Homo sapiens: one gene and its partners. The protein of the gene in region 4 interacts with the protein of the main gene of each other region in a biochemical or structural test. Each region holds a gene or a part of one and is shown on either strand. Other genes may lie near its edges.

Region 1 (7,482 bases), on a different chromosome or scaffold from region 4:
AAAGAACACAGGGCATAAAAATTTGCCAGAACAAATACTGCAGAGTTTGGTATACCAGACAGAGTACACCAGGAGAGTGGCAGATTTAGCTAAAAAGGCAGGTTATGACTTGATCTTTTAAAAGAGCCCTTGAATTTAGTCAGACTATTCCAAAGGCAATGGGAAATCACTGATGGTTTCGAAATAGAAGACAAATGAGTTTTGATTTTTAAATATACTAGCAGTCGTACACCACAAGTGTTTAACTGTACTCTTATAACCACTTTACGGAAATAGAGCTCATCTTCTCTGTTTTACAGTTGAGTCCCTTAAGAGAGGGGAAAGAAATGATTACATTCAAGCATAGAACATGTTCAGCTTTAGGATAGGTGAACTAAGTGTACCTACTAACAACTTAAAAATTTGGACTAGGGGTAAGTTTCAAAAAGGTTCCTTTCTCAACAGGGTGTCCTTGCAAAGATAATTTAATGTTTGGCAAACTGAGGGAAAAAAATTCTCAACTGCACCAAACTATTACTCAATGCTCCAGAATGAACACGATATGGAAAACTAATGTTTTCCTTAGTATTTATTTCCGCATAACCATCCACCGTTAGTCTGTATCTCATTATTCGTACGTAGTGTGAATCCAGTACTATTTTTCAAGTTACATGGCCTGAGAAAATGATTCTATCCCACAGCAAGACTATTTACTGGACTGGAAATCAATTTCCAACGACACCCATACTCAGCATTTTTAAAAGTAATTTTGTCTACGATAGTCACCTAACAAAATGTTTTTAGAGCCTAAAGTTTCACAGGCTTCAGGGACAAAAACACTAAAAAATTACACAATTGAAATTTTCAGCTTATTCCTTCCTAGCAGTCTAGAGGAAGAGGAACAGTGCCAAGAACCAGAAGGAACAGCTCTCACACGGCACCTGTAAAATTTTTTTATACTGTGCTGACTACCCCTCACCTAAGGGGAACAGCATTACTCAACTATTAAGGCCACTGAAACAGGAAAATGTTTGGTTGGGGACACTGACTTACTTTAGGAATTGCTCAAGGTTCCACTCACGTTGAAGGGACACTAAGATCAAGCACATACAATCAGGGTACAACACTAAGAAACTGTACTAGCTATAAAAAGAACAAAAGGTTGGACATTTCTTTTCCACAGAGTGCTCTTTTAGGAAACTTTCTCCTTTTAGTGTCATCTTCCTCTGAGCTGCTTCTCCTCAAACTTTCTGCACACTTGGCTAGTGTGAGAATCCAGACCTTCTCACTGGAAAAAATACTTGTATTTAAAAGCCTTAAAAAACCTATAGGAAAAGAAGTCAAGGAGACCCCTCTGCCTTCTTTCTAAGCTAGGTAAATGAGACCCTCTCAAAGCTCTCACATGGTCTAGTTCGCCTCATTAGTTAAAACACTACAAAGAAATTTGAGACAGCAACAGACTTTACACAACTGAGTTGTTTGCCTATTTCCTGAAGACCTGGTGGGCACCATGGTAGAAAATAGGGCAGGATTTTTTTCACCAAAAAAATCTCTCTAAAAGGCAACCAACAGGTACAGCTTAAGCCACTGGTGAGTGTTCTCATCTGGAAGTACATGATTTAAGCAGTAATGGGTTTGGTCACTATTTTTTTTTTTATTCTGAAACATTCCTTACATGAGATTTTTAATACAAAGCCTGCAAATGGTTTATCTTGAGGAAGACCTTTACTGTAGTCACTATGGGATATGGGATTTAACAGTTGATTGTTGGAGATGTTAAACTATGCTTTCTGCTTCTCTATTCTCTATCTTCCTCATTCAATGATAAGTGGTACTAGCAGTGGTGACCAACCACAGGCTACAAAGAACAGTAGGCCAAGGTATTGAAAACATTAAAGACCTGAAAGGATGCTAGGAGAAACATAAGAATGTCCCCTCCCTTGCTGGGCGTGGTGGCTCACGCTTGTAATCCTAGCACTTTGGGAAGCCAAGGCAGGCGGATCACCTGAGGTCAGGAATTCAAGACCAGCCTGGCCAACATCGTGAAATCCCATCTCTACTAAAATATAAAAATTAGCCGGGCATGATGGCGGGTGCCTGTAATCCCAGCTACTCGAGAGGCTGAGACAGGAGAATTGCTTGAACCCAGGAGACGGTGGTTGCAGTAAGCCGCAGTTGCGCCACTGCACTCTAGCCTGGGCAGCTGACCAAGACTCCGCCTCAAAAAAAAAAAAAAAAATTCCCTCCTTTCAAAGAGCTTATAAATTGGAAATACTAAAAATATTTATTCACAAATATTTATGAATATTATGAATATTCATGAAGCTACAGAGCAGCCATGTTCCAGGAGCCCAATAAGTATCTGAACATTCGGTTAACTTTCTTTCAATGACAGCCAGTATCTGTTCATCAGATCAACATAACCAAAAGGTAGCATTTATGAAAACAAGGTTTTAAGTGTCAACCCTATTAAAGCGTAACGCCATAAATAACTTATTCTAGGTTTCATCCCCCCAAGGCTTGTCAAAATTCAAAAGCCTATATAGTGGCAAGGCCAAGTTCATGGATTCTACCTTTAAGACAGTAAAATTATCACCACGATGTTCCACAAATCATTTGTTATCCCAATCTCTACCATCTATTTTGCACGTCATCACACAAAGGTCATACAGAGGACAGAACGCAGTAGTATAGATACATTTCCTCTCAGCACTTTCCGGAAAACTAAAAGCTTATGCCATTACTAAAGGTTAATTTCTTGTATTCTATTTGAGAGTCTATTTCTTTCAGAACTAAAGACAAGATTTACATGACTCAAAAGACAAGATTTGTATGACTGTGAATCAGCATTATAAAAACAGCCCTTGCCTCAAAAACCTATACTGAGCAACACAAAACACTGCTTTGGGGACTGGAAGAGATGATAAAATGAGGTGGGAAACAAAGGGAGTAAGTGCCTTAAGAAATTTTAAGAATCATCCTCAAGAAGACTTTACAACCAACCTAGAAAAATACAAAGGTGCGAACCAACAATAGAGGTCGAAGTGCAGTGCAATTAGCTGTCCATCAGGCAGACAGTAACTACTGTAACTGTTCATATAAAGATCTGGTTTACTATAAAGTTTTATTAACTTTAATGTTATGAAATGTCTGTATAAAATATGTAGATGCGAATATCAAGGCAGGGAACAACAAACTTCAGAAACATGGTTATTTCAAGAGAAGGATGCTTGGCAAAAAGATATGAACAATTTCACAAAACTCCAAATAGTCCCTTTAAAACACATTTTAATTTGAAATTTCTTCTGAGAAATCCTTTTTTATCTTAAGGTTTAACAGTAGGCACTGCACAGTATCTCACTGCATCACTGACAAGGTATTAACTTCCTGTTTAGTCGTAATTATAGGTGAAACAAGCATGCGTGTTCATTACACAAGGTACTAAGAATGGATTGAATATTACTAATTTTCTTTCGATCACCACTGAAGGTAAAGTCACTTAACATTATTCAAAGCCATTCTTTTGTAAGCATTATTTAAAAATGGGCAAAGAAACCCAAATTTAGATTTGAAGCTCTGCTCCATGAAAGCAAGAAGGGTGTTTTATGGACATTAAAACAAACAAAACAAACAAACAAACAAAAAAAACAAAGATTAACAGCCAAACAGCTGCCCAGTAGTAGAAAACATTCAATTACACATTAGCCATGAAATTACAGCAAGGTTAGGATTAATGTAAGTATTTCATACTGAAAAAGGTACAAGAAATCATGATTCACAATTGACAAACATTTAAATACGACAAATTCAGCTATGAAAAGTTGAAGGTCTCTTTTACAATAGATTATGTTGAAAGTATCATTAGGAGATAAAAATCAGATGTTTCAACAAAGTATAAAAATACTTCCCTAAACTTTTCCCTTCCCTACATAACAAGGTTGAGGATACAATTCTGAATAAATCTTATCTAATAAGAGAAACTGGGCAGTAAGATATTTGGTGAATGCATTCATTTTTAATTATGAAATAACACTGCTATGGTAGCAAGCTCAAGACCACAACATTTCCAAGAATGGAGAGTTTTATTTCATTAATTTCAAAATACTGGTTTTGGCAAGGGGAATTAAGTCATTATAATAAAAGACAAATCACATTGTAATAATACTAGTACAAAAAATACAGTATAGAAAATTTATTTTAAATACCTCCCCTACTAGATCTAATATTCTTGAAAGGTAAATTACAAAGTGACAAACAACTATTCATGTGTTTACATGCTTATTTTCACCACTGAACGCAGAGATTACCATAGATAAGGACCATCTTCCTCATTTATTCCCTGGGACTAGAATACTACGTCTAATGCAGATTAGGACCTTTACTCCCTTGTATCTGTGGTTCTTAATCAGAGAGGAGCTTCAGAATCACCTAGAAAATTTTCAAAATTATGTGTTTCCAGGGAAAATGATTTAGTAAGTCTAAGACCCCCATGCAGCTGTATTTTTTTTTTTAAATTCTAAACAATCTGACATTTAAAAATAAGTAAACAAGTATAACTGGATTGTAACACAAAGGATAAATGCTCGAGGTATATACCCCATTTACCCTGATGTGATTATGCATTGCATACCTGTATCAAAATATTTCATGCAACCCATAAATATATACACCAACTATGTACCCACAAAATTTTTTTAAAAACTCCAAATGTTCTGGAATATAAATGTAATTCATGTCACACCCAACAATATATAATATTCAGTAAGCTCTTCTATACGCTAACAGATACAAGAAAACTGCTATTTAAAAAAAGAATGCAAAAACCAACCTAGGTTTGAGATTTTAATCTGAAACATTTTTTTATCTCAGTGTTACGAACCTAGTTTCTTTTTTAATAGATAGATTATAGCAACATGCTGTGGAGAATCCTCAAAGATTGCCTGTCTTGGATAAAAAGGGTCACCTAAACTCAGGGGCAAAGTTTGACAGAGCAATCTAGTGACACAGTAGTTCATCCCAGTGATGGAGCATTCAACTTTTTATTTGTATAAATAACAAAAACTAGAATCAACACTGCAGATGAGCATGATGAAAGAAAAGTATGCAGTGTCAGTAATGCATCCTTTTTCAAATTAAACAAATACTGAGGTCCTATTATTATCAGCATCCTTCAGTCACAACTATCCTACACAGAAAGTGAGCTGGCTATCAACAAGCTTTGAGGACCATATATGAAACACATGCAAGACAGTTTACCCAGCCTATATACTAGTTGGGGACAATAAATATATTTTGTTCACTCTAAGACATCCTAAGCAGTTAACTGGCACATGTTAGTTTTCAGTGCTTGAAGAGACTACCCCAAAAGAATTAAATCCACTTCTACTTTCAAAATATTATTAGCCAAAATCTTAACTCACAAATTAGCTATAACCTAAGAGTAAAGCTAACTCCCAATTACTTAGATGTATAAGTGGGAGAGCAAAGCAGCTTATTTCAGGTAACAAACTAAAATCACATACATTATAAAACAGGAATTGAAGGGCCAGGCCACGTGGTGGCTCACGCCTGTAATCCCAGCACTTTGGGAGGCTGAGGCGGGTGGATCACGAGGTCAGGAGATCAAGACCATCCTGGTTAACACGGTGAAACCCTGCCTCTACTAAAAAAACAAAAAAATTAGCCGGGGGTGGTGGTGGGCGCCTGTAGTCCCAGCTACTCAGGAGGCTGAGGCAGGAGAATGGCGTGAACCCAGAAGGCAGAGCTTGCAGTGAGCTGAGATCGCGCCACTGCACTCCAGCCTGGGTAACACAGTGAGACTCCGTCTCCAACAACAACAAAAAAAGGAATTGAAATGGTTCAAAAAAGAGCTTGAGCTTTTGGTGCCTATCTGATTTGAATCCCAGTCACTTACTAGTTGTGTGACTAGACGACTATTTCTCTGAGCCTGTTACTTCATCTATAAAATTCTCACATCTATCCCACATGGTTGTCTTGAGGATTAAATGAGTTAGGGTTTAGATGAGACTGCATTGTCTTAACTACTGTAATAGATAATACTATATGCAAAAGTAAACCGTTCTGAATGACAAAAAAAAACTAAAGGATGATATCAAACTGTAGTTGTTAAGAGCACATACTCTGGACCAGGCTGCCTAGGTTCTAATCCCAACTGTCACAACATGAACCTGGGTCATCTTCTTAACCTCTATGCCTAAGTTTTTCAATTTCGAGATGGAGATAATCTTGAAATTATCTCAGTGGAAGTGGTGGTAGGAGGGAAACGAAGATCAAATGAGAGTTTTTTAACCCTTTACCCATGGTTTCCCTGCTAGCCGCTTGCTTATAATCATATATAAACACTAAAGTCATACTTCCAGAAATAAAAACCCTTACGAAAACTTAACAGGGTGTATACAATGAAAACATGAGCTATTCTTTTAGGCTTGGTTCACATATTTATCTTCAAACGTCCCTAAAACACATATATTGTAGTCCCTGTTTAATGGGAGTGGTAAAATTGTCTACAGCTCTCAATACCAATCAACTTGGAGTGCCACTTTTAACTCCTGTTGTTTAATAGCCCTATTTAAGACCATATTACAGCTCGTTCAAATAAAGAATACAGGAAAAAAGTTGATTGGTCTAACAGTCAAAAAACTTACTCCAAGAACACAGCTGAAGCAAAGTATAAATTCAAAAGCTCGATCAAATGGACTAAAGGTTAAAACTATTCCAATAATCATTTCAGTAAAATATTAACGAGGAATACAGATATATCATAATACTTGAAATGTGGGACCTTCAGACAAGAATAAATTCGAAATAGGTACGTAACACAAGCATACCATACTGACATCAATGGCTACTTGACCCCATATTTCTAGAAGAGGTGCCTAAACCGAAGAGCATTCCAGTTCAGAGCTGTCCACTCACTAAAATTGTTGGATGTGGAATGTTTGAAAGTTGCCTCATGTGATTTTAACATTAACAGCTGAAAAACCAAACCACATGCACACGTCAAAGTTTCTGTAAGTTGAATCAATAATGTTCACATAAACACTGGTTTTTCCAATATGCCAAGTTTTTATGTTGTGTCTATATTACATAAATCTTCAAAATATTTACAAAAGGAGACAACCTGGTTAACTAAGAGTACTAAACTAGAAATCAAAGTTCTTAAACAAAAACGATTTTTAAAAATTATAAATTGTGATATTAAAATAGCAGTAATAACTAGGAGTGTCATGTGCCAAGAGCCTGTTCAAATTTGCACATTAATCCATTTAATCGTCAAAACAAATCTAGGAACTTAAAATTTGTTTTGTTCACTGCTGCCACCCCAATGTCTAAAACAGTGCCTGGTACATATTAGGCACACAGTCATTTATTGTTCATATTACAACAGATACCCTTCTTATAGAGGCACATAAACTTGCCCAGAGCTAGAATTCTAACTGGAGCATTTCTGCTCCAATGTTTACACTCTTAACCACTGTTATA
Region 2 (7,482 bases), on a different chromosome or scaffold from region 4:
ACAGGGCTCCATGCTCAGGATGTAAGCCTGCCAGCACAGGGACCCACGTAAACCCGGGCTCTCCCCACGCTCCCTAGAGGACAGTCTGGAGAGGCGGGAAGAAAACGGGGTCTGCCCTCTCGCACAAGGAGTAGCAGGGTCTCCACCCGGCATTCCAGGGCAAAAGAGAAGCAACTGCAGGGAAGACTAGCACTAGAAGGTGACCCCCCCATCTTGGTATTAAGGGAAGGGAGCTGGTAACCTGGAAATCCAACAGCCATGAGCATTCATCCCAAAGGACCTCACGGGTCACCTAGGCCGGGGTGTACCTGAGAACTCTGTCAGCAGAACCATGCCCAGGCCACCTGGAGGCACCCAAGGCTGCCCTCTCCCCAGGCTCAGTCCCCTTGTAATTCTCTCAAGGCAGCCTGTTCTTTTGTTGATGGTACTTATCACTATTTCTATTTATATACTCATTTGTCTAACTTCTCTCTCGCCTAACTGACTGATGGCTCCTTCCCAGGTGGCCCCAGCACAGAGCATGGGAGCCACACAATAAATACTTGTGAATGAGAGAGTGGCGACTTGGTCTGGATCCCGATGACTGCCCCTCATCAGGTCTGCCCTGCTTCTGCTGTCAGCTTTGCAGATGAGGAAGCGCAGAGATGAACAATCTGCCCCAGCAGGCGCTGGGCCGGAGTCAGGGAGGCTGAGACCAGACCCCCACTGCACTGCCTAGGGTTGGGTTCCCTGGGCTCCTGACACACCTGCAGGGAAGGACCTGAGGGGTGGGGAGGGAAGGGCCCAGAGCCCGAGCTACTGGCCCAAATTTCATGGAGACTCACCAAATCTGCATTTCCCCTCAAACTCTCAAGAGCACCTGAAGAGGCAGAGAAAGAGAGAAACATGAATGTTGGGTTACAGCAGAGGAGGGGCAAGGGGCTCTGTGAGGACAGCCCCCCAAGAACGGAGCAGCGAGAACTCAGACCCTCAGACTCTGCTGGTGGGAGAGCCACCTTGGAGATCTGTTTAGAGGTTTCTAACAAAGTTAAACACACACCTACCCTCTGACAGCAAGTCCACCCTTAGGTATATATCAAAGAGCAAGGAGTGCAAACGGGCACAAAAGACTTGGCCAAAATGTTCCCTGAGGCCTTATTCATCACGCCCCAACATGGAAACAACCAATCTAACAACAGTTTGGTAGATATACAAATTGTGATACAGCCACACAAGAGAACATTACACAGCCTAAAAAGGAATGAGCTACTGATGATACAGGAGACAGAAAGAAATTATTTAGGCAGATAGTGAGGGTAAAACAGTCCTCGGCAGAATTTCCCTTTTAACAAAATCCCCAAATCGTTTCTTTTCTTTTTTTTCTTTTTTCTTTTTCTTTTTTGAGACGGAGTTTCACTCTTGTCGCCCAGGCAGGAGTGCAATGGCACTATCTTGGCTCACTGCAAACTCTACCTCCCAGATTCAAGCAATTCTCCTGTCTCAGCCTCCCAAGTAGCTGGAATTACAGGCACCCACCACCATGCCCGGCTAATTTTTTTGTATTTTTAGTAGAGACGGGGTTTCACCATGTTGGCCAGGCTAGTCTCAAACTCTTGACCTCAGTTGATCCACCCACCTCAGCCTCCCAAAGTGTTGAGATTACAGGTGTGAGCCACTGCACCCAGCCTCAAATCATTTCTTTTCTAAAAAAGAGCAGCCTGAAAAATCAAGCTGCAGACATAGATAAGCAAGCTGGAAGCTCACAGGAGTGAATGCCAGCAGCTGTGCCAATAGAAAAGGGCTACCAGGGGGCCAGATATACTCAGCAAAGAGGCTCTATCTTCCCTTTTGTTACCACAAGACAGTAAAGAAGTAGGCAACATGGCACTGGCCAGGTAGAGAACCCATCTGCATAACACAAGATTGGAGTGGGGCTGGCCAGCTTTTCGCACCACATGCAAATGGCACACCTAGCCCTAACCAGTTTTATGCATCCTATGCAAATGAAACACCTGGTCTGACCAATCTTTGTGCCCTTTGTAAATCAGACACCATCTCCTCAGGCTCATCTTTAAAACCCCTTGCATTTCATTGCAGAAACAGCAACCCATTTCACTGGAACCCCTCTCTCTGCAGCAGACAGAGCTCTTCTCTTTCTTTCACCTATTATACTTCCACTCTGAACCTCACTGTATGTCCGTGTCCTAGTCTTCCGTGGCTGTGAAGACAATGAATCTTGGGTATTTACCCCAGACGAGTGACACCGCTTCACTGATACACGCAATGCGGGATAACCTTGAAAATGTGCTGCGTAAGGCCAGGTGCGGTGGCTCACGCCTATAATCCTGGCACTTTGGGAGGCAGATCACCTGAGGTCAGGAGTTCGAGACTAGCCTGGCCAACGTGGTGAAACCCCATCTGTACTAAAAATACAAAAAAAAAAAAAAAAAAAGAAAAATTAGCCAGGCGAGGGGGCAGGCGCCTGTAATCCCAGCTACTCGGGAGGCTGAGGCAGGAGAATCGCTTGAACCTGGGAGGCAGAGGTTGCAGTGAGTCGAGATCACGTCATTGCACTCCAGCCTGGGCAACAAGAGCAAAACTCCATCTCAAAAAAAAAAAAAAGAAAGAAAACGTGCTGCGTGAAAAAAGCCAGACACCAGAGAGTATAGAAATAGTGTGGTCTCATTGAGAAGAAATTCCAGAGCAGAAAGAGGTGAGAGAAGCTCAGGAGAGCGGATGCTCACTGTCTGCGAGTCCACAGGGGCCCAGCACACAGCAGGTCCTCAGGAAATACTTGCAGAATGAATAAATGAATAAAGATGATTATTTTCCATCAACATCAAAAGAGTTTTCATTTCCGTTAGCAAGAAGTTGACTGGCCACCAGCCTAAAAGGTTATGAGATGTTTTTTCTTTTTTTTTGAGACAGAGTCTCGCTCTGTCACCCAGGCTGGAGTGCAGTGGCGCGATCTTGCCTCGCTGCAACTTCTGCCTCCTGGGTTCAAGCGATTCTCCTGCCTCAGCCTCCCAAGTAGCTGGGAGTACAGGCACCTGCATCACGCTTGGCTAATTTTTGTATTTTTAGTAGAGATGGGGTTTCACCATGTTAGCCAGGCTGGTCTCGAACTCCTGACCTCAGGTGATCCACCTGCCTCACCCTCCCAAAGTGCTGGGATTACAGGCATGAGCCACCACGCCCGGCCTACATTTTTTCTTTTTTAAACAAGGAGAATACAGTGGCCACCTCCAAGTTGCAGTGGAGCCCATACTCCTGTTCCAATAACAGTGCCATTCCTTGCTTAGAACAGGTCTGAACTATTCTGCCAGCTTAAAGGCCACAGCAGAAAAGCACTCACATCCCATTCACATCCCATTTTTAAAGTTAGAAATGGTTTTACCTACCCTGAAAATTCCTATTCATCCACAGACTTCATTCTGAGAACATTTGCTCATTTCCAAAATTCCGCTGTACCCCAAAAATATAACTACTATCCACTACTGAGGAATTCACTCATTCCCCAAATTAGAAATATCTATTGATAAAGCAAAATGACTGCTCTCAAGAGGCCAAGGGCTACAGGTGCCCATGGAGGGAGCAAATCAACCAAGGGGTGCCCAAAGAAAGAGGGAGAGGAGACACTCCAGGCAGAGGCCCCGGCATGAGCAAAGGCAGGGAGGATGCAGGAGCATGGCATGTTCAGGGCCCCTCAAGTTGGGTGACATGGTCAGATACAAGGTGCATGAGACCAGTTTCTCCTGAAATGGCCACTCCCATGGGGACAATAAACACACATGGCTAAGTGTGTGCAAAAGAATCAGTCTTCCAGCCTGAGTCACTGGGCATGTGCCCAGGTCTCCAACACAAACAGAAGAGGGCAAGCACATCCTCTCTGCCACCCAAGGGAAAGAAGGGGTTTCGTCCCTCCGAACCTATGCTGGAATCACCCCAGAAGTGGCAGCAGAAGAGTTCCCACAAGGGAGTGCCCCAAACTGTCCTAAGATGGGGCCAGTTGGGATTCCAAAGAAAGAAGCAATAAATGCCAGGGCGATCTGGCCAAAGCAATCCTCGAGGTGCGGAGGCGAGAAAAAAAAACAGGTGTCTACCTAGGTTTGGTCCAAAGTGAAGAGGTCAGGGTAAGGAGTTTATATGAGGGTTTAAGGAATTTGGCTCAGGGCCAAGGCTGGTTTCTTTCAGTTGTTTTGGGTGATAACCTAGATACCTTTTTGTTTTGTTTTGTTTTTGGAGACGGAGTCTCACTCTCTTGTCCAGGCTGGAGTGCAGTGGTACAATCTCAACTCATTGCAAACTTTGCCTGCTGGGCTCAAGTGACCCTCCCTCCTAAGCCATCCAAGTAGCTAGGACTACACCACCACACCTAATTTTTTTTTTTTTTTCAGACAGAGTCCCGCTCTGTCGCCCAGGCTGGAGTACAATGGCACAATCTTGGCTCACTGCAACCTCTGTCTCCCAGGTTCAAACAATTCTCCTGCCTCAGCCTCCCAAGTAGCTGGGATTACAAGCACACACCACCACGCCCAGCTAATTTTTGCATTTTTAGTAGAGACAGGGTTTCATCATGTTGGCCAGGCTGGTCTCAAACTACTGGCCTCAAGTGATCCATCCGTCTTGGCCTCCCCAAGTGCTGGGATCACAGGCGTGAGCCACCATGCCCAGCCTACCTAGATACCTTTATCAATGCCTGAGAATGTTTAAGGCCCAGGTTTGGGCTCAGGTCTGCTGGGAAAAACCTGTAGCTGGCTGGGTCACAGGGTGGTCAAAGCACTCTGTGATTTTCAATCAGGACACAGAAAGAAACAGGGGAACTGGGGGACCCTACAGAAGGGAAGATGCCCTAGGACTGGCCCTCCCCAGCCCTTGGCAATTTAGAAATCACAGAAGGAAGCAGAGCTGACCAACAAGACCCAAGGCTCACTCAATAGGAGGCCCCATGTGAAGTCCCTCCACACACTGCCTCATTTACTCCTCAGAGCAGGCCCTTCAGCACAGAAGTACTGGCACACATCCCCATTTGCCAGAGGGGAATTGGGGGCTCAGAGACCCTGAGTTGTAATGGGAGGTGAGCACAGCCACCAGCCCCAGAGCAAAGAGACCAAGAAGCCAGGTAGGGCTGAAAAGCCAACTTCTACTTTCAAGGAAGTTCCAACCCAGGCAAGGCATGAGCAGAGAAAGCCACTGATGGTTGAGTTCACAGGTCAACTTGACTAGATCACAGGGTACCCAAATATTTGGTTAAATATAACAGTATTTCTCAGGGTGCCTGTGAGAGTGTTTTGGGGATGAGAATGGGATTTGAATAGGTAGACAGAGTAAAGCAGATGGCCCTCCCCAGGATGGTGGGCCGCGTCCAATCCGTCAAGGGCCTGAATAGAACGAAACAGTGGAGAATGGGAGAATTTGATCTCTCTCTGTCTCACTACTTGAGCTGGGACATCAGTCTTCTCCTGCCTTTGGAATGGGACTTCTACCATTGGTGCTCCTGGATCTCAGGCCTTCAGACTCAGACTGGAACTACACCACCAGCTTTCCTGGTCTCCAACTTGCAGATGGCAGATCTTGGAACTTCTCAGCGTCCATAATTGCATGAGCCTGTTCCTTGTAATAAATATGTTTTTAGATAAAGATATATATATATACACACACAAAAAAAATGCATATATCTTTCTATATATATCCGTGTGTGTATGTGTGTATATGTATATATATAAAACAGAGGCCCAGAGACTCAACTACTTGTCCACTGTGACACAGCTGCTAAGTGTTGGAGTTGGGCTTTGAACCAAGTACCTCGGACTCACTCCATCACTGCCTCATAAAGGACAAATGGCTTGGCCAGGTGCAGTGGCTCACGCCTGTAATCCCACCACTTTGGGAGGCTGAGGCGGACAGATCACGAGGTCAGGAGATCAAGACCATACTGGTTAACATGGTGAAACCCTGTCTCTACTAAAAAAAATACAAAAAAATTAGCTGGGCATGGTGGCAGGTGCCTGTAGTCCCAGATACTCGGGAGGCTGAGGCGAGAGAATGGCGTGAACCCAGGAGGCAGAGCTTGCAGTGTGCGGAGATCGCGCCACTGCACTCCAGCCTGGGCAACAGAACAAGACTCCGTCTCAAAAAAAAAAAAAAAAACGAACGGCTCATTCTCTTTCTTGTCTGTGTATATGTGCCATTAATCATTAGCTCATGCAAATGTTTACTAAGTACCTGCTGAGTTCTAGGTGTTGGGGATGCAGCATTGAACAAAAGATGCTGTTTTATACACATACACACACCCCCTATTGGTTCTCTTTCTCTGGAGAATCATGAGAACACAGCCACCAACAGTTCTCCCAGTCCTCCCGGGCAAGAGGCCCTGGCTGGAACAAGCAGTTACACACAAGGCATCACGTCTGAAACTAAGAAAGTTCCTTCCATTCTGAAGGAAAAGGCATTTTCCTTTGAATATACAAAGACAAAGCCACTCTCTCTGGTGGGTCCCCTAATGATGCACCTCTAAAGCACCGTGTTCAGCTTCATAGCACTACCCACAGCCGTGAATAAAGACCAAATTAGGCAAGCATGAACTGAGTACCTGCCCCTCTCCACCTGAAGGCAAGGACTGGGCATCCTTGTTCGAAGCTGCATCCCCAACACCTAGAACCCAACAGGTACTTAGTAAACATTTGTGTGAGCTAATGAGTAATGGCACAAATATAGGGACAAGAAAGAGAATGAGCCATTTGTTCTTCATGAGACAGTGATGGAGTGAGTCTGAGGTACTTGGGTTCAAATCCCAACTCCAACACTTAGCACCTGTGTCACAATGGGCAAGGAGCTCAGAGTCTCTGGGCTTCTGATTTCCCCATCTGTATTACAGGATAATAGGAGCAACTACCAACCTCATAGGATTGTGATGACACCTCAAACAATTAATACATGTGAGGCACATAGAACAATACCCGACACACTTGACAACTCAATAAAACTGATGTGTCCACATTATTATTCATTGACACTCATGCTCAATGAATATGTATGAGTGCAGTGTGTGTACTCAGCCCCACCACACTAACCCTTTGGGCCAGATTCTTCTTTATTGTGCAGAGCTACTCTGTACACTGTTGGGTTTTGGCAGCATCTCTGTCTACCCACTAGATGCCAGTAGCACCCACCCACCCTCAGCTATAACAACCAGATTTGTCTCTAGACATTGTCAAATGTCCCTTGGAGGTCGGGGAAAAATCGTCCCCAGTGTGAAACACTGACCTACAGCATCCTTTCCTGTATTCACTTATTAAAGGCTCTGCTGCTGGCCCTATTCTTGCTCAGCCAGACCTTCCCATACATATGAATACACAGCTCTTCCTTTGTGGGTCACCATGAAACCTACCTTGGGAAACATTCCCATGCAGTACTCTGGAGTCTAAGGCCCAGCATCTAAAAAGGACATCTCTCAGCAGCTCATGGAAAATGGGACAGTCGCTCTATTAAGCCAGAAGACCT
Region 3 (7,655 bases), on a different chromosome or scaffold from region 4:
AAAAGATCCAGCCCTCCCACCTCATTTTTTACTATAATATGTTGCTAGGTATAATTTTATTTTATATAAAAAGTGTTTCTGTGATTCTTCAGAGCCCAGGAGTCAGTGCTGGTGGTTGGAGGGACCTGCCCCCACTGGTTCATTTAACCCTCTGTCTCGGTGCCCTCAGAACCTCAGCCAGAAAGGCAAGGAGGAAATCAGAGCAGGAGCCTCATACTCTTGGTGATCTATTCATTCTGTGACCTCAGGGGTCACATATAAGGTCAGTGTTTCTCGTCCCCGCCGGATCTGCACTGCCAACTGGGATTGGGTTCGAACAGCTTCATAAACATCTTCAGCATTTTGTACCATCTGCTCCCCAATGGCCAAAATCACATCACCAGGCCGCAGACCAGCCCTATAGAGAAAAATGGACAGAGAGAAAGGAAGGAGTACAAAGCCTAGTTCAAGGACACATGCACACCTTGCCCATCCCCATATCACACTGCAGCCTCTCCCTCACCGGTGTGCAGGGGAGCCCAGGATGACTTTATGGATGAGTACACCATGCTGAACATCGGGAAAGCTTGGTTCTCGAAGCTGTAGTTCAGCAAGGATGCTGAAAGTACACAGATCACCCTATTAGCCAAACCCAGGCATTCTCCCCATCCTGAGTTCCACCTCAAGTCTCTCATCAACACATTGATAAATATATGGACAGGACATGGGCTAGGTACTACAAAATACAATGGCAACTCACTTTCTGTCTTCTAGCAATAAAGTGCAACATGTACATAAAAGATGTACACCACATGAGGGCACCAAATGACAAACAGTGTTAAATCAATAGCACTAATGTCATTCTAGAATACTAAGAGAAGCTTTAAGGGGAAAGAACTTAAGTTGAGCCTAAAAGGATGGATCTGATATTAACCATATAAAACAAGAACAGCATAAATAAAAAACATGGGAGTAGGAAATCAGGTTGGCTGAGTATTCATATAGGAAGGTATTACAGCCAGGTCTAGAAAGTTGATTTACAGACAGATGGAAAATGGCCCTTAAATGCCAAGTTAATGGATTGAAGGCTTGAAATCAAAGCAGTAACAGGATGAAATCAATCTGGTGACAGGTGTACAAAGTGGAGTGGGATAAGAAAGTCAAGATGATGAAGGGAGACAGCTCTTGTGATTATTTCAAGTGTGACACAGTTCATCTTAGATAAAGACAGAAATGAGAACAAAGCTCAATAGAGGTGCCCCCCTCTGATTACACTGGTCACATTACATGTCACTGTCCCTAAAGCTCATACCTGGGACTCAGGGTCAGCATCATCACCCCAATGTAGCGCCGCTGGGACCCACTGATTCCGGAGGAGGAATCTGTGACAGAGGGACAAATGAGCCCCACCCAGCTACATCCTTCCTTCCCTGCCCTCTTCTCCCAGTAGACCACCCTCCAGGAAGTCCCACTGAATGCCCTTCCCCTATTTCCACCACATTAAAGGAACCCGTTTCCCCATAAGGCAGGCTCACTCTTCTTTTCCCCACGATGCAGAAACTCTCGAAGACGATCAGAAGGGATGGCAAAGGAGATTCCAGCTGTGACCTTCATGGTGTTCACTCCAATCACCTCCCCATCCTGCAGGGATACAGCCCCCAGTTCCCTAGCCTAAACAAATAGTAGGGGATGGGGGCACCCGAACAAAAGTACCAGCAAGTGTTGGGGAGATCTGGTTGGATATTGAGAGATAGCCAACAAAGAACTGCTCAGAAACTTGACCAAACATCCTTGAATTAGGGGAAACCTACCCTTCCCACACTGACCTGGGGCAGGGATTCTTGGAAGGAAGGATGTCTCACTCACCAGGTTAACCAGGGGACCTCCAGAGTTTCCAAACTGTAGGACAAGGAGAAAACATGAAAGAGATCTGGGGATTCTAAGTCTGGGGGCATACCAGGATGTAGGTACTTTCTCCAAATTCTCTTCTTTCTCAGCCCATGAATAAGTGGCCACATTTTTGCAGCCTAAGCTCTATATAGGCTCATCCACCATATATCAGTTGGTGCTTGTACCACACAGCCTCTCCCCCCTCCCCCATCATTTGTCATTTCTCTCCTATCAGGACGCACATCAATAGCTGCATCAGTTTGAATGTATTCCACATTGGTTTGGGGGAGTCCCAGGTCTCTGGCTGGACGCTGAGCAGAGCTAACAATGCCGGATGTGATCGTGTTCTGCAGTGCAAAGGGACTTCCCATGGCAACAACAAACTCCCCTTGCCGGACATCAGCTGAGCGTCCCAGAGGCAGCGTGGGGAGAGGCTCCTAAGGGAGAATGGGTAAAAGAGACCTGTCATCTGAAGATGCGAGCAAATAAGCAGCTCCAACCAGACCTGGCCTACCCCAGCCCCCACCTTAGTCTGAATCCTCAGCGTTGCGATGTCTGCCACGGGATCCACAGCTGTGACCACGGCCTCATACGTGTCGCCGCTTAGCAGTCTCACACGGACTCTGCGCCGATCAGCCACCACATGGGCGTTGGTGACAATGAGCCCATCGGCAGCCACCACGAATCCTGAGCCGTTCGAGATAGGGACCTCGCGGCCCAAGAAAGGGTGCCTGAAATGGAGGGAAAGCACAGATAAGAGGAGGCTCTGACCCCTCCTACCCGCCCGCCCTCCAGCCTGTGGCTTCAGTGCCTCCCGGTCTACCCCCACCATTACCGGTCCAGGATCTCGATATAGACCACGGCAGGTGCTGTCTTCTCCACCACATCTGCGATGAAGTTGTACTGACTCCGGGGAGAAGCGGGCGGCGGGCTAGGGACGGCGGCGAGGACGGCCGGAGGACCCCGACCCCCGCCCCACAACAACAACAGCACTGCCCCCCCAGCGCCCAGCGCCACCGCCAGCCACGCGCGCGAACGGGTTCCAGAGTTCTCTGAGGCCTCCCGGGTCCTGGTATCTGGGGTCACCGCAGTCAGTTGTGCCCGGGGACCCGGGGTCCCAGACGTCAGGCATGCTCGGGGTTCAGTGACCCCAACAGACAACCGGGCCCAGAGACTGGGGGTCCCATAAGTCACTCGGGCCCGGGGGTCAGAAGTTCCTGACGTCAGCAGGGCCCGGAGGTCAGGGGTCAAACGGGGTCTCCTCCCCCAGCGAATGCCCCCCAAAGCCCGCCATGCCCGAAGGCTCCAGCCTGCACCCCGCCCCGCCCTCGGCGCAGCCATCAGCTCCGCCTTGGCTGCCTCCTCGCCCGCCCTACTCAGAGGCGGCACCCAGGACGCGAGCAGGCGGACAGTAGGACGCGGGGCACGCCGGTACCTGAAGTCCTTCAGAAGTGCACGCCGGGACCAGGATTCCGGGAGGCCGACTCCTCCCTGCCCCACGAATGCCGGGAATTGTGGTCTCCGCCGGACGCGAGTTGTGAGACGGCCCAAGGGGCCGCGGGGTATGCTGGGACCGCTAGCCCTTCCGGCGCGCCTCAGGACTTCGGGTCCCCTCACCCCGGGCGGATGCCCAAAGACTCCGCCTTCCCAAGAGCCCCTGCGGCCGGGCGCGAAAATGGCGGCGGCGGCGACGGCCGGGCGCTCCTGAAGCAGCAGTTATGGAGCTTCCCTCAGGGCCGGGGCCGGAGCGGCTCTTTGACTCGCACCGGTAAGAGACCCGGCGGGAAGAGACCGATCCCCGCGTGCTCTCGGCCTTCGGCGCCTGACCACTTCGCCTCTCGCCCCCAGGCTTCCGGGTGACTGCTTCCTACTGCTCGTGCTGCTGCTCTACGCGCCAGTCGGGTTCTGCCTCCTCGTCCTGCGCCTCTTTCTCGGGATCCACGTCTTCCTGGTCAGCTGCGCGCTGCCAGACAGCGTCCTTCGCAGGTTCCGACGCGGGCGTTCGGGGAGTGTCAGAGCTGGGTCTGGCCCGAGGCCACACAGTCACCACCTCCTGTGTCCCCAGATTCGTAGTGCGGACCATGTGTGCGGTGCTAGGGCTCGTGGCCCGGCAGGAGGACTCCGGACTCCGGGATCACAGTGTCAGGGTCCTCATTTCCAACCATGTGACACCTTTCGACCACAACATAGTCAATTTGCTTACCACCTGTAGCACCGTGAGTGAGAGCGAGGCCGAGAGCGCCACGGGGCGGTTCCCTGGGGCCCAGCTGAAGGCCCCCCTGTCCCCACTCGCGTTCCCCATGGAGGATACTGAGCCTTACCCCTAACCCCGATCCTCTACCCAACATGTCAGTTTTTTTTTTCATTTTCCTCAATATTTTTCTTCTTGCTTTCTCTTCTCCTGGTTCCCAGCCTCTACTCAATAGTCCCCCCAGCTTTGTGTGCTGGTCTCGGGGCTTCATGGAGATGAATGGGCGGGGGGAGTTGGTGGAGTCACTCAAGAGATTCTGTGCTTCCACGAGGCTTCCCCCCACTCCTCTGCTGCTATTCCCTGAGGAAGAGGCCACCAATGGCCGGGAGGGGCTCCTGCGCTTCAGGTGGGTTTAGCACAGGTATGGGGCGCCAGCTGGGTAGGTGGTCAAGCTTGTGGGCCCTTGAGTTTTTACAACTTTCTTCGGCCCTTAGACCCCATCATCTCCAGTTCATTTCCTTTCTGTCCACTTTAAGTTCTTTCTCCTGAATCCCTTCATTCTTCAATTATGTGCTTGTAGAGTTTGACAGTTGCCTGTTATAAGGCAGGTGTGAGCTGCTGACTAGGCTGGCTGGATTCCCATCCTACTTTCTCCTTCCTCTTCTAGTTCCTGGCCATTTTCTATCCAAGATGTGGTACAACCTCTTACCCTGCAAGTTCAGAGACCCCTGGTCTCTGTGGTGAGTGTGTGTTGAACAGGGAATCTCTGGGGCTTGAAGGGGAAATTTCCCATCCCTGGCCCTGGCTTAGGCCTCATCTCATGCCCTCCCCTCAGACGGTGTCAGATGCCTCCTGGGTCTCAGAACTGCTGTGGTCACTTTTCGTCCCTTTCACGGTGTATCAAGTAAGGTATTAACTGTCCTCACATTTTGGTCGCTGGGGAGAGGCTCACCTCAAGGTCAAGGAATTAGTGGCCTCTGCCCTGTCCATTTGTAGATCTTTATATCAAGGTTCTACCACAGAGGCAACACAAAGTATTTACAGTATTTACTATTTTCCCACCCACCATGCAAAGAGGTACCAAAGTGGGGAATGGTGACAGCCTCTACCCTGGGTGCCCACAACATAGCCCTGGATTGTTTCTTTGCAGGTGGCTTCGTCCTGTTCATCGCCAACTAGGGGAAGCGAATGAGGAGTTTGCACTCCGTGTACAACAGGTGGTCGGGTGCACAGACAGGGTGGAGGCGGGGTCCCTGCTTAGGAGGAGAGGGAGGAAAGCTTGAGATCTTGACACTTCCAGTCTTCCAATTCTCCCTAGCTGGTGGCCAAGGAATTGGGCCAGACAGGGACACGGCTCACTCCAGCTGACAAAGCAGAGCACATGAAGCGACAAAGACACCCCAGATTGCGCCCCCAGTCAGGTATGTGGTCTCTATACATTACAGCTTTTGGGGTTTTTTTTTTTCGGCCTACTGTGATTCCTCCCCTATTTCTGTGCTAGTTAGCCTCTCCTTCTAGTTCTCTACTTACCAGAATTTCTTTTTTCTTTTTTTCCTTTTTCCACAGCCCAGTCTTCTTTCCCTCCCTCCCCTGGTCCTTCTCCTGATGTGCAACTGGCAACTCTGGCTCAGAGAGTCAAGGAAGTTTTGCCCCATGTGCCATTGGGTGTCATCCAGAGAGACCTGGGTATGGGAAAGGGTGGCCCCACACTGGGAGATGGGCACAGGGAGGAAAAGTGGGTTGTGAAGGAAGAAAGTAAGTAGGGAGTGGACTCCCTTCTCTTTTCTCCCCAGCCAAGACTGGCTGTGTAGACTTGACTATCACTAATCTGCTTGAGGGGGCCGTAGCTTTCATGCCTGAAGACATCACCAAGGGAACTCAGTCCCTACCCACAGCCTCTGCCTCCAAGGTGAGACCCAGGAAATGGTCAGATCCAAGTGTTGGGGTGAGTTGGGGGCAGGCTATGTACTCCCTTATCCCTGACCTTTCTTTTTTGATCCTGAGACCCTAGCATAGTGCCTCTCTTGCAAAGTAGGCATTCGATGCGTGTTTAATGATGATGACTCCGCAAGCCCTCTGACATTGTGATCACCTCAGTTTCCCAGCTCTGGCCCGGTGACCCCTCAGCCAACAGCCCTAACATTTGCCAAGTCTTCCTGGGCCCGGCAGGAGAGCCTGCAGGAGCGCAAGCAAGCACTATATGAATACGCAAGAAGGTGAGGGGGTTAGAGGACAATTAATAGGATGTGGCAAATTGGAGAATGGAATTATGGAGCTACTACGGCAAAGCCTGAATAATATCTCTCCCTATGTCCCACAGGAGATTCACAGAGAGACGAGCCCAGGAGGCTGACTGAGCTCAAAGGAACAGGATGGCACCCAGAGCCGCAGGACGGAGACTGGGGGCAGCCCTCACCCAACTCACAACAGGCTGGATGGGTGGGTGGTAAAAAGGGAAGGATGAGGCTCCCCCAATGTCACATTAAATTCATGGTTTTCATTCAAGGCATCTGTTGTCTCTCTCGGTCTCAAAAGCCCTGTGAGTGGGTTCCTTATTCCTTGGCTGCGGGGGATGGGGGTGAGAGTCTTCTCGTACATTTGAAGGGGGTAGTCAGACTGCAACTGTCTAAAATCACCTCCTCATGCCAAGTGATGAGTGATAAATTAAGGAAGTGTAACTGAACTGAAGACCCAGCTTGGGTGATCAGCCCAGGTTTTGGAGGAAGCTGCTGCAAAACTACAAGTCCCAGCATGCCTTTCACAAGCACACTACACATCATCTATAGAGTTCACACATGCTCAGTGTGGTAGCTGGAGCCTGTTTTCCATAGGTTCCTGACTAGGTTAAATAAGGTGGAGCAAATAGCCCCACCCCAAAAGCAGGCTTCAGGATTTGAAGTTTGAGCCCATCCCTGAGGTAGAGCCGGAATTTACCTTTGTACTTCACACGGTCAGGGTTGGTGGTGACTACGTGGGTCTGGAGCTGACTGCCGTCCTGACACGTCCTAGAGCTGCAAGCAGGTTTGAATCCAGGATCCCTGTGACTCTGCTGTTCCTCTCCCCACCCCCTATATTCTTTATCCTTTTCCCTTCAGGACTTTCCCACAGGTTACTAGGTCTCACATAATTTCTACTGCCCTTGAGGACCCCTGCCTAAGTAAGATTTCTACTACCTGCCAACGGGGTAATAGTCTCAGGTAGATTTCTACTACCTGACTATAGGGACTGTCGACTAACTCTCAGTAGCCCTTTATCAAAATACCTAGCACTGTTTCCTGGCAGGAAATGCTGGGAAGGGTGGGCCCCAGAGCATGATCAACTGAAGGTAGAGGTTAAGGATCAGGGCTGAGGTGGGAAGATGGTGTCGGTCACCAAATATGACCTTACTGGCTGCTCTGCCTTCTGCAGGTCCTGCCAGAGAGCCACCATGACCTCTCAGCCTCTCAGGCTAGCAGAAGAGTATGGCCCAAGTCCTGGGGAGTCTGAACTGGCTGTGAACCCCTTTGATGGGCTTCCCTTCTCTTCCCGCTACTATGAGCTGCTGAAGCAGCGCCAAGCCTTGCCCATCTGGGCTGCTCGCTTTACCTTCTTGGAG
Region 4 (7,482 bases):
GAGACAGGGTTTCGCCATGTTGGCCAGGCTGGTCTTGAACTCCTGACCTCAGGTGATCCACCTCAGCCTCCCAAAGTGGTGGGATTACAGGCGTGAGCCACTGTGCCCAGCTGGAAAGACCATTTTTCAGAAGGGTCGATGAGGGAATGGAAGGGAGCCACCAACATCTAATTAGGTGGGCACAAGTAATGGAGCAACAAAACAAACTGAAAATAAAAACAAGTCAAAGATAGGAGAAGCAGGAAAGAGCAATGTCTAGTTGCCCTCTGGACATTTCCACCTAGAATGCATCTCTAAAAACCACTCAGACTGAATCTAATCCTGCACTTTTTTCTCCTGTATTGGTTAATAGTACCACAGTTCACAAGGTTGCCCAGTAATTTATGTTGTTCCTAAGCTCTTTGCTCTCTGTAATCCTTTTACATTTAATTAATCATCAAATTTGATGGATTCCACCTTTTTAATGTTGCTTCAGACTTTCCCACTTATTCTGCTCTAGTTCAGGCCCTTCCTTGTTTTTCAACTGGACAATTGTAGTAGTCTCCTAACTGGTCTTTTGTCTGTATTATAACCTGCCAACAGAGTTTTTCTTTTTGTTTGTTTGTTTTTGTTTGTTTTGTTTTTTTGTTTTTCTGAGACGGAGTCTCGCTCCGTCACCGAGGCTGGAGTGCAGTGGCGCGATCTCGGCTCACCGCAACCTCCACCTCCGGGGGTCACGCCATTCTCCTGCCTCAGCCTCCTGAGTAGCCGGGACTACAGGCGCCCACCACTATGCCCGGGTAATTTTTTTTTTTATTTTTTGGTATTTTTTGCAGAGACGGGGTTTTGAACTCCTAGGCTCAAGCGATCTGCCCGTCTTAGCCTCCCGAAATGCTGGGACTACAGACGTGGGCCACCATGCCCAGCCTTATCTTTTATTTTTATTTTTTAATATAGATAGGGTCACACTTTGTTGACCAGGGTGGTTTCAAACTCCAGGCCTCAAGGAATCCCCCTTGGCCTCCCCAAAGTGCTGGGATTACAGGTGTGAGCCACTGCACCCAGCCTCCTCTCTTTCAAAAAACATTTATTGAGCTATAATATACATACAGTAGCCGGGCGCAGTGGCTCACGCCTGTAATCCCAGCACTTTGGGAAGTTGAGGCAGGTGGATCACGAGGTCAGGAGTTCGAGAGCAGCCTGGCCAATATAGTGAAACCCCATCTCTACTAAATATACAAAAAAATTAGCCAGGCGTGGTGGTGCATGCCTGTAATCCCAGCTACTCGAGAGGCTGAGGCAAGAGAATTGCTTGAACCTGGGAGGTGGAGGTTGCAGTGAGCCGAGACGCGCCATTACACTCCGGCCTGGGTGACAGAGCGAGACTACGTCTCAAAAAAAAAAAAAAAAAAAAAAAAAATATATATATATATATATATATGATTTTATATATATATGATTTTATATATATATGATTGTGTATATATATATGATTTTGTATATATATATGATTTTGTATATATATATGATTTTGTATATATATGATTTTGTATATATATATGATTTTGTATATATATACACACGCACACATACACACATAAAGTGCTTAAAGTACCCTAATCGTAAGTTTTCTACTTGATGAATTTTAACATATATATGTTAAAATATATATTAAATATGTGTTAAATATATATTAAAATGTATATGTTAAAATATATATATTTATCTGTGTGACTATCCCCCAGATTAAGATATAGAACATTCCCACAACCCTAGAAAGTTCTTTCATGCTCCTTCCCCATCAGTACCCACCCCCAAGTTATATTCTGGCTTCTATTACCATAGATTAATTTTGTTTATTACCATAGATTAGTTTTGAAGTTCTTATAAATGGACTCATGCAGTAGGTACTCTTTTGTGTCATAATGATGAATTATGATTATGTTTTGCTCATTATATCTATGAGATCCATCCATATTGTCTGTGGCAATAGTTTTTTTTTTTTTTCTTGCTGTGTAGCGTATGAATATACCACAATTTATGTATCTGTTCACCTGATGATGGACATTTGAGTTGTTTCCAGTTTGGGGCTATTATAAATAACACTACTATGAATACTCTTGTGCATATCTTTGGCAGAGATATACACTCATTTTTAATACCCAAGAGTGGAATTGATGAGTCAGAGGGTATAAGTGTCCTCTCCTAGCACTTCCCTACACATGCTGTGTTCCTACTTTAAGTATCATAAAAACAAGTTTCCATTGACTTTCTTGCTTTATTCAGTCCTACCCGCTCTGCTACAGAAACGAAGTTTGAGAGCTAGGAAATTGACACATTCAAGGTTATAGACTGGGACTTCCCTGATTTCCCATCATTTTCCCCAAATAATTGCTAGTGACTCAGTAACAACATCCACTCTTTAAGTAACTTAGGTTAATTGTTAATGAGTACAGCTAGATTCAAAACAGTTCAGATTTTTGAAGCACTTAACCTTTTTCTTGCCTATTTTACCTTGCATCGTTTCAAACACTACAAAATACATACTCATTGCATTTACAATTAATTGTAAGATTCTGAAAGTGATTTTTCAGTGCCTGAATACTTCAAAAAATCTTCCCAAAGCAGCTTTGCTTTGCTGGTTTGTTTTTATTCTTTCGCTTGCTCCTTAATTTTTTCATTTTAACTATATTTTGCTATTGAGTTGTGATAATGAAAATAATTGTTTAAATTCTATGTTCTTTTTCCTCACCAATTTTTATTTCAGATGATACCATCTTCCAAAATCCTATGGTACAAGAAGCTATACGAATGGGGTTCAGTTTCAAGGACATTAAGAAAATAATGGAGGAAAAAATTCAGATATCTGGGAGCAACTATAAATCACTTGAGGTTCTGGTTGCAGATCTAGTGAATGCTCAGAAAGACAGTATGCAAGATGAGTCAAGTCAGACTTCATTACAGAAAGGTATGCATTGCTGTTTTTAAAAAGCAAGAAAGGGCCAGATGTGGTGGCTCATACCTGTAATCCCAGCACTTTGGGAGGCTGGGACAGGTGGATATGGACATTTTTTAAACGTAACCTTAATGCTGTGTGTTAGTCTGCTCAAGCTGCTATAATAAAATTCCATAGACTAGGTGTCTTAAACAACAGACTTATTTCTGACAGTTTTGGAGGCTCCAAAATCAAGGTGCTGGCTGATTTGGTTATTGATGAGGGCCCTCTTCCTACCTTGCAGATGGCTGCCTTCTCACTGTGTCCTCACATGGCATGGGTTGGGATTGGATGGGACAAGATGGAGCAAGTACTCTGGTCTCTTTTCCTCTACTTTTAGGAACACTAATCCCATCATGGGGGGGTCTCATCTTCATGACCTCATCTAAACCTAATTACTTCCCAAAGGCCTCATTTCCAAATATCATTACATTAATCATGGAAAAAAGATTAAAAATATGAGTTCTACCAGCCTGGACAACATAATGAAACTGTCTCTACAAAAAATACAAAAATTAGCCGGGCATGGTGGTGTGTGCCTGTAGTCCCAGCTCCTTGGGAGGCTGAGCGGGGAAGATCACCTGAGCCAGGGAGGTCAAGGCTGCAGTGAGCCATGATCATGCCACTACACTTCGGCCTGGGCAACTGAGCAAGATCTTGTCTCAAAATATATGTATCTCTCCTTTAAGGATGATGGACACTGTAGTGCTTGCCAACAACATCGAAGGTTAAAGAAGAAGTTTCAAACTGAGTACACTTTTGGGTACTTTACCTGTAATAGTTCTCTAAGCTCTTGACCATCCTCCCTCCAAAAAGATGAGAATTCTCCTACTGCTAAAAAAACTTAAACGTTTACTTATTTTTGACGCATTTAAGATCCTTTTGATCTTTAAGATATTTCAAGTGCTTTTGAAACACTATTCAGATAATCGTATAAGTTATGAAACAGTATGAACATTAATGATATTTAAAATTATATTCATTGATGTAAGAATCAATGGAAAGCTTCCAATTTTTTCCTTATAGATGCATTTATTTAAAACTTACACAAGCTCCACTTATCTTGGTGGTGGTAAAATAAACCCTTTAATTGTCATCTTTCTTTCTTTTTTTAATTTTTTATTTGTTTTAAGACGGAGTCTCACTCTGTCGCCCAGGCTGGAGTGCAATGGCACGATCTTGGCTCACTGCAACCTCCGCCTCCCCAGCTCAAGCGATTCTCCTGCCTCACCCTCCCGAGTAGCTGGAATTACAGGCATGTGCCACCACGCCCGGCTAATTTTTTGTATTTTCAGTAGAGACAGGGTTTCGCCAAGTTGGCCGGGCTGGAATTTTTCTACTATAACAGAAACACAAGCAATTGTGTCATTTTTTTCCTGCATCTTAAACACGCGCTTAATTGTTTGGCCATAAATTGTTAGTTTTCAAACCTTAATGTATCTGCAGCAGAAGGGTTTAGCAGGTTGTAATAGGAAGAGATCAAGAGACTGTGCATTAGGGAGAGTGTCTTTTCTCTATCTAACAGGAGTCAATGGGCGCTCATATTATCACTGAGACTACAAACTAGGATGGTGTGGGAAGGAGAGCCTAAGGGTTGGAATTCATTTGAACTCTCCTCAGTCTCACTAAATTGAGAGGCAAGTAATTGATACAGGCTCTCTACTCATGCTGGGACTGCTGCCTATTTGTCTTCCCAAAAGCTGATGAGGAAAGACTGGCACTAAGAATCTTTTAATTTTATATAAAATAAGGATGGGGCTAACTGAAGTGAAGCAGGTGAGGGTTATTAGAGAAAATATAACATTGTCACTTACTGAGAAATCCTAGATTTAGTGCTAAACTTTTTTGCCAATGGCTGTGTAACAGAGAATGCCCTAGTAAAAGGTCTTGTAAAAATAGTACCGAATCAGTATCTTTTTTTCTTTCTTTGAAAAAATTATGTAGTGTAAGATAAAGCCCTTTATTTAGTATATGTACTAAAGTACTTATTTTAATCTTTATGTGTATATATATTACTGTATATAATATAAAAATCAAATAACCCATATTCATTTCTTATCTGTCTTTCCATATGAATCTGCTCTAATAGTAAAATGAATAACATCAGTTTATTCTAGAAGAGGTTTTAAATAATTACAAATATTAGCAAATAACATCAAAAGTTATCTAGCCTTTATTGCTCATGTGCCAGTAACCTTCTGACCTAGAAGAGGGCTTTGTGGGGAGGAGAAGGGGAAAGGCGCTGTAGAGAAGTATGTAGAATCCAGTAGTTACCTTTAAGCCAAGAGGGAAGTAATTGCCAGTGGTAAACTACTGGTCTGAGGGGAAAAGATCTATGCCCAGAATATCACCATCTCAAGTTAGTGGCTTTATACAAGGATGAAATAATATAGAAAAAAATGAGATGATATGGTATCACAAACAATCAGAACCAAAGGAACCTTAAAGATTATTTTATAATTTTTTTTTTTTTTTTTTTTTTTTGGAGACGGAGTTTCACTTTTGTTGCCCAGGCTGGAATGCAATGGTGCAATCTTGGCTCACTGCAACCTCCACCTCCCGGGTTCAAGCAATTCTCCTGCCTCAGCCTCCTGAGTAGCTGGGATTATAGGCATGTGCCACCACACCCTGTTAATTTTGTATTTTTAGTAGAGACGGGGTTTCTCCATGTTGGTCAGGCCGGTCTCCAACTTCCAACCTCAGGTGATCTGCCCGCCTCGGCCTCATAAAGTGCTGGGATTACAGGCATGAACCACTGCACCCAGCCCATTTTATAACTTTTATGACCTTAATTGGGAACCTGAAGTACAGATGGGCTGTTGCCTAGGATCACGCCGATAGTTGGGAATAGAATTCAGATTTCCTGACTTCTGGTCCAGTGTTTTGGGGTTTGTTTCAGTTTTTTTTTTTGTTTTGTTTTTTGTTTTTTTTAGATTTTAAAAAATTGTGATAAAATACACATACAGTTTACCATCTTAACCATTTTTAGTGTATGGTTCCGTAGTGTTAAGTACATTTACATTGTTGCACAGTCAACCTCCAGAACTCTTCATCTTGCAAAACCGAAACTCTACATCCATTAAACAGCCAGGCGTGGTGGCACACGCCTGTAGTTCCAGCTGCTTGGGAGGCTGAGGCAGGAGGATTGCTTGAGACCAGGAGCTCAAGGCTGCAATGAGCTGTGATTGCACCACTGCTCTCCAGCCTGGGATACAGAGCAAGACCCTATCTTTAAAAAATAATAATAATAATAAAAACATGTTCATTAAACAACTCCCCATTCCCTCTCTTCCCAACCCCTGGCAACTACCATTTTACTTTTTGTCTCTATAAATTTGACTACTCTAGGTGTCAGTATTGTTGTTGCTTTGTTTGTTTGTTTGTTTCTTCCTTTTTGTGGAGAACGGGGTCTCACTATATTGCTCAGGCAGGTCTCGAACTCCTGGGCTCAAGCTATCCTCCCGCCTCTGCCTCCCTGAGAGCTGGGATTATAGGCGTGAGCCACCGCGCCCAGCCTGTTTGTTTGTTTTTAACTCGTTGTAGCATTACATCTAAAAGTAATGTGGAAATTACTTGTTCTCCTTTTGATTTTTTTGGCATGAAATACACACTTCATTCTGACTTTTTTTGGTGTTGATGCTTTCTTATAATATAAATCAGCTTATAGTGCCGTTTCTTTACTTGTATTTTTTCCTCTGCCTTGAGTACGTTTTCTCTATCTGTATACCTAGTCCCATTCCCCACTCTACCCCCAACTCCCTGAATCTACTTTGTGAACTCATGTTTCAAGGTTCAGCTCAGAAGTCACTTCTTTCAAGTTTTCTCCCGCACCCACAGCAGAGTTAGGAGCTCCTTCTTATCTACTCCTGGTGCTGGTAGAGTTTTGTTTTGTTTTATTTTGTTTTGTTTTGTTTTTCTTGAGACAGGGTCTCGCTCTGTCGCCCAGGCTGGAGTGCAGTGGCACACAATCTCAGCTCACTGCAACCTCTATCTCTCAGGTTCAAGCGATTCTGCTGCCTCAGCCTCCCGAGTAGCTGGGATTACAGGCATGCGCCACCACACCCAGCTAATTTTTTTTGTGTGTATTTTTAGTAGAGATGGGGTTTCACCATGTTGGCCAGGCTAGTCTTGAACTCCTGACCTCAAATGATCTGCCCGCCTCAGCCTCCCAAAGTGCTGGGATTACAGGCGTGAGCCACCAGGCCTGGCTGAGCATTTTGCTTTTTACACTATTTTGGGACTGGTTTCTGCCCTGCCCATTAGACCAAGCTTCTTAAGGGTAAGTGCTTTATCTTCTTATCTCTGATGCATTCCATGTTTGAGCCTATAGTTTTTATTATGCCCAAGAGGGTACTTTTTAAGAAGAAAGAGATTAAACAATCCTTTCCTCTACCCCCTAGCCAGAGAAACCTTTCTGAGACATAGATGTGATCATATCTGTCTCTAGTTTAAAACCCTTCACTGCCTCCCAGGACCCTTGGGATCAAGTCCAAACTCCTTTACGTGGC

The links.
Region 1: the proteins of XIAP (region 4) and UBE2D3 form a complex in vitro, tested with the Homo sapiens proteins (5 studies listed by BioGRID).
Region 2: the proteins of XIAP (region 4) and CASP9 form a complex in vitro, tested with the Homo sapiens proteins (12 studies listed by BioGRID and IntAct, with this or other methods).
Region 3: the proteins of XIAP (region 4) and HTRA2 form a complex in vitro, tested with the Homo sapiens proteins (10 studies listed by BioGRID and IntAct, with this or other methods).

The regions. Positions count from the first base shown.
Region 1 is NC_000004.12:102,817,129-102,824,610, forward strand, and holds part of UBE2D3 (ubiquitin-conjugating enzyme E2 D3), read right to left. Parts: intron 1-7,482. UniProt on the Homo sapiens protein: Accepts ubiquitin from the E1 complex and catalyzes its covalent attachment to other proteins. In vitro catalyzes 'Lys-11'-, as well as 'Lys-48'-linked polyubiquitination.
Region 2 is NC_000001.11:15,507,049-15,514,530, forward strand, and holds part of CASP9 (caspase-9 isoform alpha precursor), read right to left. Parts: intron 860-7,482; coding exon 825-859; intron 86-824; exon of another isoform or gene 28-85; coding exon 1-27. UniProt on the Homo sapiens protein: Involved in the activation cascade of caspases responsible for apoptosis execution. Binding of caspase-9 to Apaf-1 leads to activation of the protease which then cleaves and activates effector caspases caspase-3 (CASP3) or caspase-7 (CASP7).
Region 3 is NC_000002.12:74,525,562-74,533,216, reverse strand, and holds the start of HTRA2 (serine protease HTRA2, mitochondrial isoform 1 preproprotein), read right to left. Parts: upstream 3,285-7,655; 5' UTR 3,211-3,284; coding exon 2,705-3,210; intron 2,601-2,704; coding exon 2,396-2,600; intron 2,307-2,395; coding exon 2,112-2,306; intron 1,879-2,111; coding exon 1,846-1,878; exon of another isoform or gene 1,806-1,845; intron 1,651-1,805; coding exon of another isoform or gene 1,621-1,650; coding exon 1,515-1,620; intron 1,362-1,514; coding exon 1,292-1,361; intron 960-1,291; exon of another isoform or gene 599-959; coding exon 503-598; exon of another isoform or gene 398-502; coding exon 232-397; 3' UTR 1-231. Other genes in the region: lipid droplet-regulating VLDL assembly factor AUP1, read left to right, coding at 3,588-3,637, 3,718-3,855, 3,935-4,085, 4,282-4,466, 4,728-4,800, 4,896-4,969, 5,211-5,277, 5,379-5,481 and 4 more; ATP-dependent RNA helicase homolog DQX1, read left to right, coding at 7,488-7,655.
Region 4 is NC_000023.11:123,897,747-123,905,228, forward strand, and holds part of XIAP (E3 ubiquitin-protein ligase XIAP), read left to right. Parts: intron 1-2,746; coding exon 2,747-2,947; intron 2,948-7,482.